Homo sapiens: one gene and its partner. The protein of the gene in region 1 interacts with the protein of each later gene in a pairwise test. Each region holds a gene or a part of one and is shown on either strand. Other genes may lie near its edges. The genes, in order: SECISBP2 and SMAD9.

The links.
Region 2: the proteins of SECISBP2 (region 1) and SMAD9 interact in a two-hybrid assay, tested with the Homo sapiens proteins (one large-scale study listed by BioGRID and IntAct).

What each region holds. Positions count from the first base shown.
Region 1 is NC_000009.12:89,356,440-89,360,416, reverse strand, and holds the end of SECISBP2 (selenocysteine insertion sequence-binding protein 2), read right to left. Parts: intron 3,007-3,977; coding exon 2,852-3,006; intron 2,419-2,851; coding exon 2,226-2,418; intron 1,697-2,225; coding exon 1,593-1,696; 3' UTR 754-1,592; downstream 1-753. UniProt on the Homo sapiens protein: mRNA-binding protein that binds to the SECIS (selenocysteine insertion sequence) element present in the 3'-UTR of mRNAs encoding selenoproteins and facilitates the incorporation of the rare amino acid selenocysteine.
Region 2 is NC_000013.11:36,878,622-36,882,434, reverse strand, and holds part of SMAD9 (mothers against decapentaplegic homolog 9), read left to right. Parts: intron 1-1,657; exon of another isoform or gene 1,658-2,146; intron 2,147-2,559; 5' UTR 2,560-2,745; coding exon 2,746-3,157; intron 3,158-3,813. UniProt on the Homo sapiens protein: Transcriptional modulator activated by BMP (bone morphogenetic proteins) type 1 receptor kinase. SMAD9 is a receptor-regulated SMAD (R-SMAD).

The DNA of each region.
Region 1 (3,977 bases):
CTGAGTGCAGCTGATAGGCTATTTTGTCTTTTTGCCCACAAATTAATTTTGGAACTTTCATTCTCAAATAATCTCCTATTTTCAAACTTACCACAACTTGCTATTTACTTACTGATGAGGGGAGGAGGAAGCAGGAAAGACCTCTCCTTTCCTGCTGGCCCCGCTGACTGCCCTGAAAGATAAATGGGTGGAGATGACTTGCTGCTTGGGACTACTGATGGCCTGGCTGACCACATCTACTTCCCATGTCTAAACAGCTCAGAACGTGTAAAGAACAGCAAGGCTCACACTGGTCACTGTGAGCTCCACAGATGACAGGGCAGACGGTGCCTTCATACACCAACCTCTGGTCACATTTCCAGCCCTGCTCATAGCATGTCATTTCTGACTCACTATTCCAATTTTATGTGCTCATCACAGGCCGCTTCTCAAGAGGTACAATATTGCCAAGACTGAATTCAATTAAGAGCACTTTCAAAGCCAAAACAATACAAAAAGCAGTGAAAATTCTTTCCTGCCATTGGCTGTGGTGAAAACGCAAGTGCAGGTTGGGATTGAGCCAGGATCTGGCTCCGGCAGGTCTGTGCAGTGCTGGAGGCTTTGACAATCACTACTTCCAGACCTAGGAGTGCTGGGGATAGCAGAACCCCCACTACGCGGCCCCCTTTTATTTCAGGGCCCAGACTGTCCAAAGGAGGTAAATTAAGACATAGGAATCATCAAGTAAGACAGAGACCACTGAGAAGCCTAAAATCACCAGAGTCTGAAACAAAATTTAATAATTACTCTTTATTTAAAATAAATAAGCCCTCTTACTTACAGGGAAAATATGAAAGCAAACTCTGTCCTCCTGGTCTAAGACAGAAACCACATTCAGAATATGTTCATTGAAAAAGGAAAGATTTGTTGATTATCAAACAAATCTAGGTACTTCAATACACATTGTTTCTTTGAAAAATAAAGACTGAAAGGAATAATTCATTTCAAAAAGTCACAGGTTAGAAAACCAATTTTCCTTCTGAGGCTCATTTTAGCAAATCCTCCAAGTGTTCCCAAATCTTTTAAAAAAGCTACATCCCCTGAGAAAGGGCCCTTTCCCTGTAGCCCTCTTGCTCTGACACCAGCAGCCCTGCACCCTTCTGCCAAGTGGCTCCCTGCAGGACGGTGCTGTTGCCGGGCAGGAATGGCCCTCCATGGCAACCTCCAGCAGGCAGGAGCTCACCACCTGCTTTCTGCAAACTCACTCACTTGGCTCAGCTATTCTGCAATGGAGAGGAAGTTTCCTTAGCAGCCAAAGTATTCTAAGTATCACATTTTCCAGTATTTTCCAGATCCGTAGTGTGCTCAGAAAGCCAGAGCTGTATCACCAGGCTTTTAGAGAAGATTAACACCTGCACATCTGAGTGACCTTTAACAGGCTCCGCAGCACTGAACGCCTGCAGACACTGCTTCATGTGCCCTTTAATGCTGATCAATTTCCAGATTCAACAGTTACACAAATTACATTGTCATGAAAAACAGAAGAAAAAGCCCCAAAGTCTTTTTCAGACCTCCCCTCCTTACCCAAAATACAGACACACAGGCAAGAACTCTCATAAATTCAAATTCATCATTTGAGAGGTTGAAGCCTCCAAGGATTCTTCTAGCTCCAGGGTACATCCACTGTATGCTTCCAGATGTTTTTTCCAGATTTCAACTAAAATGAGAAAACAGCACGAGTGAGGAATAGGCATCAACAAGTAGGAAAACTCCTGTAAGAAAACCAGCAGCATGAGAGAGGGAGCCTGTGGCCACTGCCCAGCAGCTCACGGTGCTCAGAGGTGCCCTGGCAGACATTCACTCACTGTTCTCAGCCTGCTGGGCCGGGCTGCCCCTTATTGAGGAGAAGCTGGGGGGCCATCTTCTATAGGGCAGCTGGGGCCTTGTGTAGGTAGGCTAGGAGAGGACTGAACCTTTACTTGGCCTTCCAAGCCTGTCTTGGGTACAGCTATCCTTAAGGCCACCCATTGTCAAAAGACATCTGACTTGAAGTCTGAGACAGTCACTGACAAGCCCTTCCCACTTCAAAAGTCTGATAATACCTCTTAGGCAATGGGCTGGACTTACCAGGCCCTGCTACTCAGCTGGTCTTGCAGCATTGTCAAGCTGCTCACCTAGGGACTCCTAATTAAAGTCAGTAAATAAGAGGACACTCGACCTGACACAACTCTCCCTTAAGCACTCACTGTAGTGTGGCTCTTCTTTTTCTTTCAGGGCTGGGGGGCCATCTTCTGCAGGGCAGCTGGGGCCCTGTGTGGGTAGGCTGGGAGGTGCCTGAGGCCTGGGCTCTCCCACCAGCTCCTGCTGCACATTCTCCAGCATGGTCTTGTACGCCTGTCGGGCCGCCACTGTCAGCTCAACCATCTTGTGGAACTGATCCTTGGGCACAAGTGAGAGCACACAGGTAACATCCCAGCTACAGAGGACACGGGTCCCTCAAACTCAGCAATGGCCACCTCCACAGAGAAGCAGGGGTGACATGGGGTAATGTGGACCTCATGCTTATGGGTGGGTACCAGGGATGCTGCCCCAGAGGAAAGAGTGGGCTAGGCCGACTTCTTGGGCCTGCCTGAGGTGCCACTATGTCAGCAGCAAGCCCAGAACAGAGCTCAGTTCAGAACCAGACAACCCATGATGTCAAGGAGACAAAGGCTACTTTTTTATAAGAAGGTTCTGCCTAAGTGGTGGCTCCTCCTCAATGACAGCCTACTGGAGGTTCTGGGGCTGCTCTGTGGGTGAGCCCACACTGACCACCTGCCCCCACTTCCTCCCACGGGCAGTGACTGAAGAGGCCTGTGCCCTGTGCACTCACCTGGGCCCCATCATAGCTGAAGATCCCCACCACACTGACAGGAACTGCCTTATTCAAACTGCGCCCCAGAGCTTTGCGGTTGAGAGCAAACACAAAGGGAATGTTCTGCTCACAGGCATAATCAATAATTGTGTGCAAAGTGTCATCCAGCCCACCTGGTCAAAGGACAATGAAAAATGACAGGAAGACATGTCACATGGAGTGTGGTGTTAATACTGGTTGCAAAGAGCTTTTTCTTAGCAACACACCCATCTATGATTTTATATCCAAGGCAGACGCCCCTGAAAATACAAGGAGAAAGCAAGTTGCAGAATCAACTCTCCAAAAATATGGGGAAAAATGGAAAGAAAACACACAGCTGGTATTGTCTTAACAGGAAAAGTTAACTATTAGTATTACTGAAACTTACCACCTATTAGCTCCTGTGTCCTCCCCCAAATCCCAAAAGGCAGACAGATGCTGTGTCCTCACTGACAGATGCACAACCAGAGGCACAGAAAGGTTAAGTTTCTTATCCCACATTGTACCCCTGGTCGAGGCACAGGTCTGGCTCCCGAGGGCTCACCACCCTCTACTCCCTGACCCTGCTTCTGGGCCAGGGACCAGCCAAGGCTGGTGCACCAGAGAGAGGATGGAGGTGAAATGAGTACCATGTGCAGGTGATGCACCTGGAAAACCCAACAGCACCTGAGAAGTACTCCTAACAGCATGAGAAATACATGAGGGGGTGTGGCACAAGCACACAGCAGCCAGTTGGCATATATCAAAGAGATGACTCCATTTACAACAGCAGCACAAGACTATAGTTGGTAGGAATGAATTTTTCAAGAAACATGAAAAGATTTACAGGCAACTTCAGCATGCTGTTAAAGAACGCAATACCAGCCTACGCAACATAGTAAGATCCCGTCTCTACAAAAAAAAAAAAGAAGAAAAAAAATTTGCCCAGTGTGGTGGTATGTGCCTGTAGTCAATCTACTCAGGAAGCGGAGGCAAGCTCAGTAACTTGAGCCCAGGAGTTCAAGGCTGCAATGAGCCATGATCATGCCACTGCACTCCAGCCTGGGCAACAGAGTGAGACCCTGTCTTTTAAACCATCCCCGCAACAGAAAATCTGAACAAATGA
Region 2 (3,813 bases), on another chromosome or scaffold:
GGGATGAGAAAGTGTGGTGGCCACTGAAGGTCACTCATCAAGGGAAACCTCAGACAGACAGTTTGAAGAAAAATGTATGGTTTAGGAGTAGTGCTTTTCAAACTTTTTTATTGTAACCCAACTTAACAAGTAAATTTTCCATTGTAACCCTGGACACATACACCGCACACACATACACACACACACACACACACACACACACACACAGCACATACCTGTGAATGAAAATTTTTCATGAAATGATTATTATTATACTTATTTTTCGTCAGCTGCTCTGCAATAAAGTCTGTTTTGTTTTGTTGTTTGTGCAAAAGCTGTTTTGTTCCAATTCATTGATTTCACATGCCATTGGTAAATAGAAACCCACAGTTTAAAAAAACGAACCAAACAAAACCTGGTTTAGGGAACTGTTGTTTCATGGAGCAAAAGTTTCTAAAAGGTGTATTTGGTTTAACTCGCTGAGTGTTTTTATAAAAAGCTTTTCTCTATGACTGACCTCAGCTTAAAGATCTATACCACAACTTACTAATAATGAGTTCCATGTAAAACTAAGCAGAATTCACAACTCTTTTGGGGTTCAGGTTATTCTATCATGAGACTTCTCCTTAAAGCTTCTAACCCTCTTCAGCCATTGCTTTAAGGCAGCCTGACTAGATTAAGTAAACAGAACTTGAACACAATGACTTAACTATACTTTATAAATTCATGATTGTTAAGCCACAAAATCAACCTTTCCAAATAAAACTGAGTGTAAGTCAAACTGCCAAGCGAAAAGAGCAGCTATGGAGCTCTCAACTCTCCCTTTTGTCATAGTTTATCTCTGTACAATGCCAGATAAAGCCCAGATGAGGAATAAAGTGATGTGACTATTGCTTTATACTTATTAAATCTCATCCGTTATTGTGGGACCATGCTGCCATCCTCCTCACCTGAGGTGCCCGATAATGATCACCCTAGCGGGGGGTTATAAGGCACCTTTGTTCGAAAGAAGTTTATAGAATTGGACTCAGAAAGGTACAGCTTGCCCTCCAGGGAAGCAAAGGAGAAAATTATATTTAATGCATATTAAACAAACAATTGTTGGAGATTATAAGCTACATCGATTCCAAGATCCCAAAATACTTGAGTCAGCTTACTCCAAAATGTTACCAGCCAGCCACTTTAAACATTAATGAGGTAGCTGGTTTCTAAAATCTGGAAGGAGGAGGAGGTTTTGTTTAAGCCAACTATTTCACAGAAGAGGAAATACAGTTCGACCTCAGGAAATTTAAATGAGACTGCTGAATAACTGGGAAAGAACATCTCCTGTGGATGACAGGGCAAAGAAGAATTAAGCTGATTTTAGGCCAAATAACAAATGTGACAGCTGTGCTTTTTTGTGTATGTATTGGTGTGTGATAGTGTATAATTTCTAGAAAAGCAGTTCTCATGCATTTGGGTCTTGAAAATTTCCACTTTTAAAAATTATTGAGAACTCCAAAGAACTCTTGCTTCTGTAGGCTGTATCTATCAATTTTTACCATTTTAAAAATTGAAACTAAGAAATTAAAAAAATATTGATTGAATCATTAAAAAAACTGTATTAACATAAAATATTTTTATTTAAAACATTGTTTTCAAAAAAGTTATTGAGAAGAGTATTATTGTTTTATATTACTGCAAATCTATTTAATACTTGGCTTAATAAATGGCACCTAGATTGTCATCTTTTCTCCATATACTCTATTGTGTTATGTTGTTTTGGTTGAAGTATGTGAAGCGAAGTTAGTTCACACAAATAAGTAATTGGAAAAGAGAGAACCTCATAGTCCCCTTAAAAGGATCTCAGGGGACTCCCAGGGATCCTTGGGGCACACTTTGAGAGCCACTGTCCTGAAAAGTAGTTTGGAAGACTATGTTAAGAATGGCTGTCCAGGAGTGGTGAGATTATTCACGATTCTTTTTTTCTTTTCTTTTCATTAGTATTTATTTTCTACAAGAAGATGGATTGCTTGTGCAAACTAAAAATGAGAAAGAAAGAACATACTCATGTTGAGGGCAGATTATGGAGGCCCTGGAAAAACCCAGGCAGAGGAGTTTACACTTGGGAGACCAAGGAGCCACTGTCATTTCTTAAATGGGAAAATGATAAGAGCTGTGTTTGGGAGTAAGTGAATTCGAATTGAAAGAGAGAAAGAGAGATGCTACTTCAGAGAAGTGGTGTGGTGAGTCAGACCTCAGGTGTTGGCAGAAATGGAGAGAAAGGACAAACTCCAAAGACTTTGAGGGCAGAATGACCTGAGACCTGGATATAGGAAATACAGGAGAGGGCAGAGTCAAAGACAACAGTTTTAAAATTAAAACATTTGAAGAATGTTTTTTCCCTTCTATCCAACTTTGGGGCCTGGTTCTGTTGCTCAGGCTGGAGTGCAGTGGCGCAGCCTTGACCTCCTGGGCTCGAGCCATTCACCCACTTGAGTAGCTGGGACTGTAGGTGTAGATTGCCTCTTTCTATCCAACTTCAACTTTTTCTGAATGTTACTCCGATTAAGCTAATTGAAGTCTTGTCGTGTTTTCCAGAGTTGGCCACCCTGTTCAAGGGCTTAGGAGAAAGTCAACACACTTCGCAACTTGAATTGGTCCCAGCTGCTCCCAGAAGAACGGGCGGGTTGGTCCCTATGCCACCCCTGGAGAGCTACTCGCCGCCCACTTTGCCGTGAAGGGCTGTGCGGTTCCCGTGCGCGCCGGAGCCTGCTGTGGCCTCTTATGCACTCCACCACCCCCATCAGCTCCCTCTTCTCCTTCACCAGCCCCGCAGTGAAGAGACTGCTAGGCTGGAAGCAAGGAGATGAAGAGGAAAAGTGGGCAGAGAAGGCAGTGGACTCTCTAGTGAAGAAGTTAAAGAAGAAGAAGGGAGCCATGGACGAGCTGGAGAGGGCTCTCAGCTGCCCGGGGCAGCCCAGCAAATGCGTCACGATTCCCCGCTCCCTGGACGGGCGGCTGCAGGTGTCCCACCGCAAGGGCCTGCCCCATGTGATTTACTGTCGCGTGTGGCGCTGGCCGGATCTGCAGTCCCACCACGAGCTGAAGCCGCTGGAGTGCTGTGAGTTCCCATTTGGCTCCAAGCAGAAAGAAGTGTGCATTAACCCTTACCACTACCGCCGGGTGGAGACTCCAGGTGGGTCGTCTTTACGACGTCAAGGTTTATTTTCAGAGTGAAGGTCGTGTGCCCCATTGATGGAGAATGATGGGGCACCAGCAGACAGGGACCTCTCCCAAAAGAGAGAGAGAGAAGAGAGGAGAGGGAGGTTCAGTTTTGAGGGACTCGTCCAAAATTTTGTTTCCCGGAATGAGGCAGCTGTCCAATCAAAGAAAGTTCCCATGAAAACGATATTCCTGCCTGGAATGCCACAGGAACACTCAATCCAAAGAGAATCGCAGTAAAACCCTGTTATAGCCAGTGTGAAGGAATGAAGATAAACTAGTCAGGAAAATCTAGAAAGAAGATATTTTCATTTGATTTCATTATGCTGGTAAGCTTTGTGTGATTTTGAAAATGAGGCAGATGGCTAATCGGAGAAAACTGCCATAAAAGTTTTATTTTGAGGTATCTGGGACAAGTCAACATAATCTTTTACCAGTTCTTGGGGTCCTGAAAGGTTTTAAAATGGCCTTGATAATGATGAGCTGTAAAAATTAAACATCCTCCTCCCCCCGCCCCAAACAACTGAACTGAACTGTACTAAACTGAACTAAGGCAGGGTTTTTGGCTGCTACTTTGTTCAAGTTCAGGTAAGTAGAAGATATCTCATGTCTAGGTCTGAAAACAGCCAA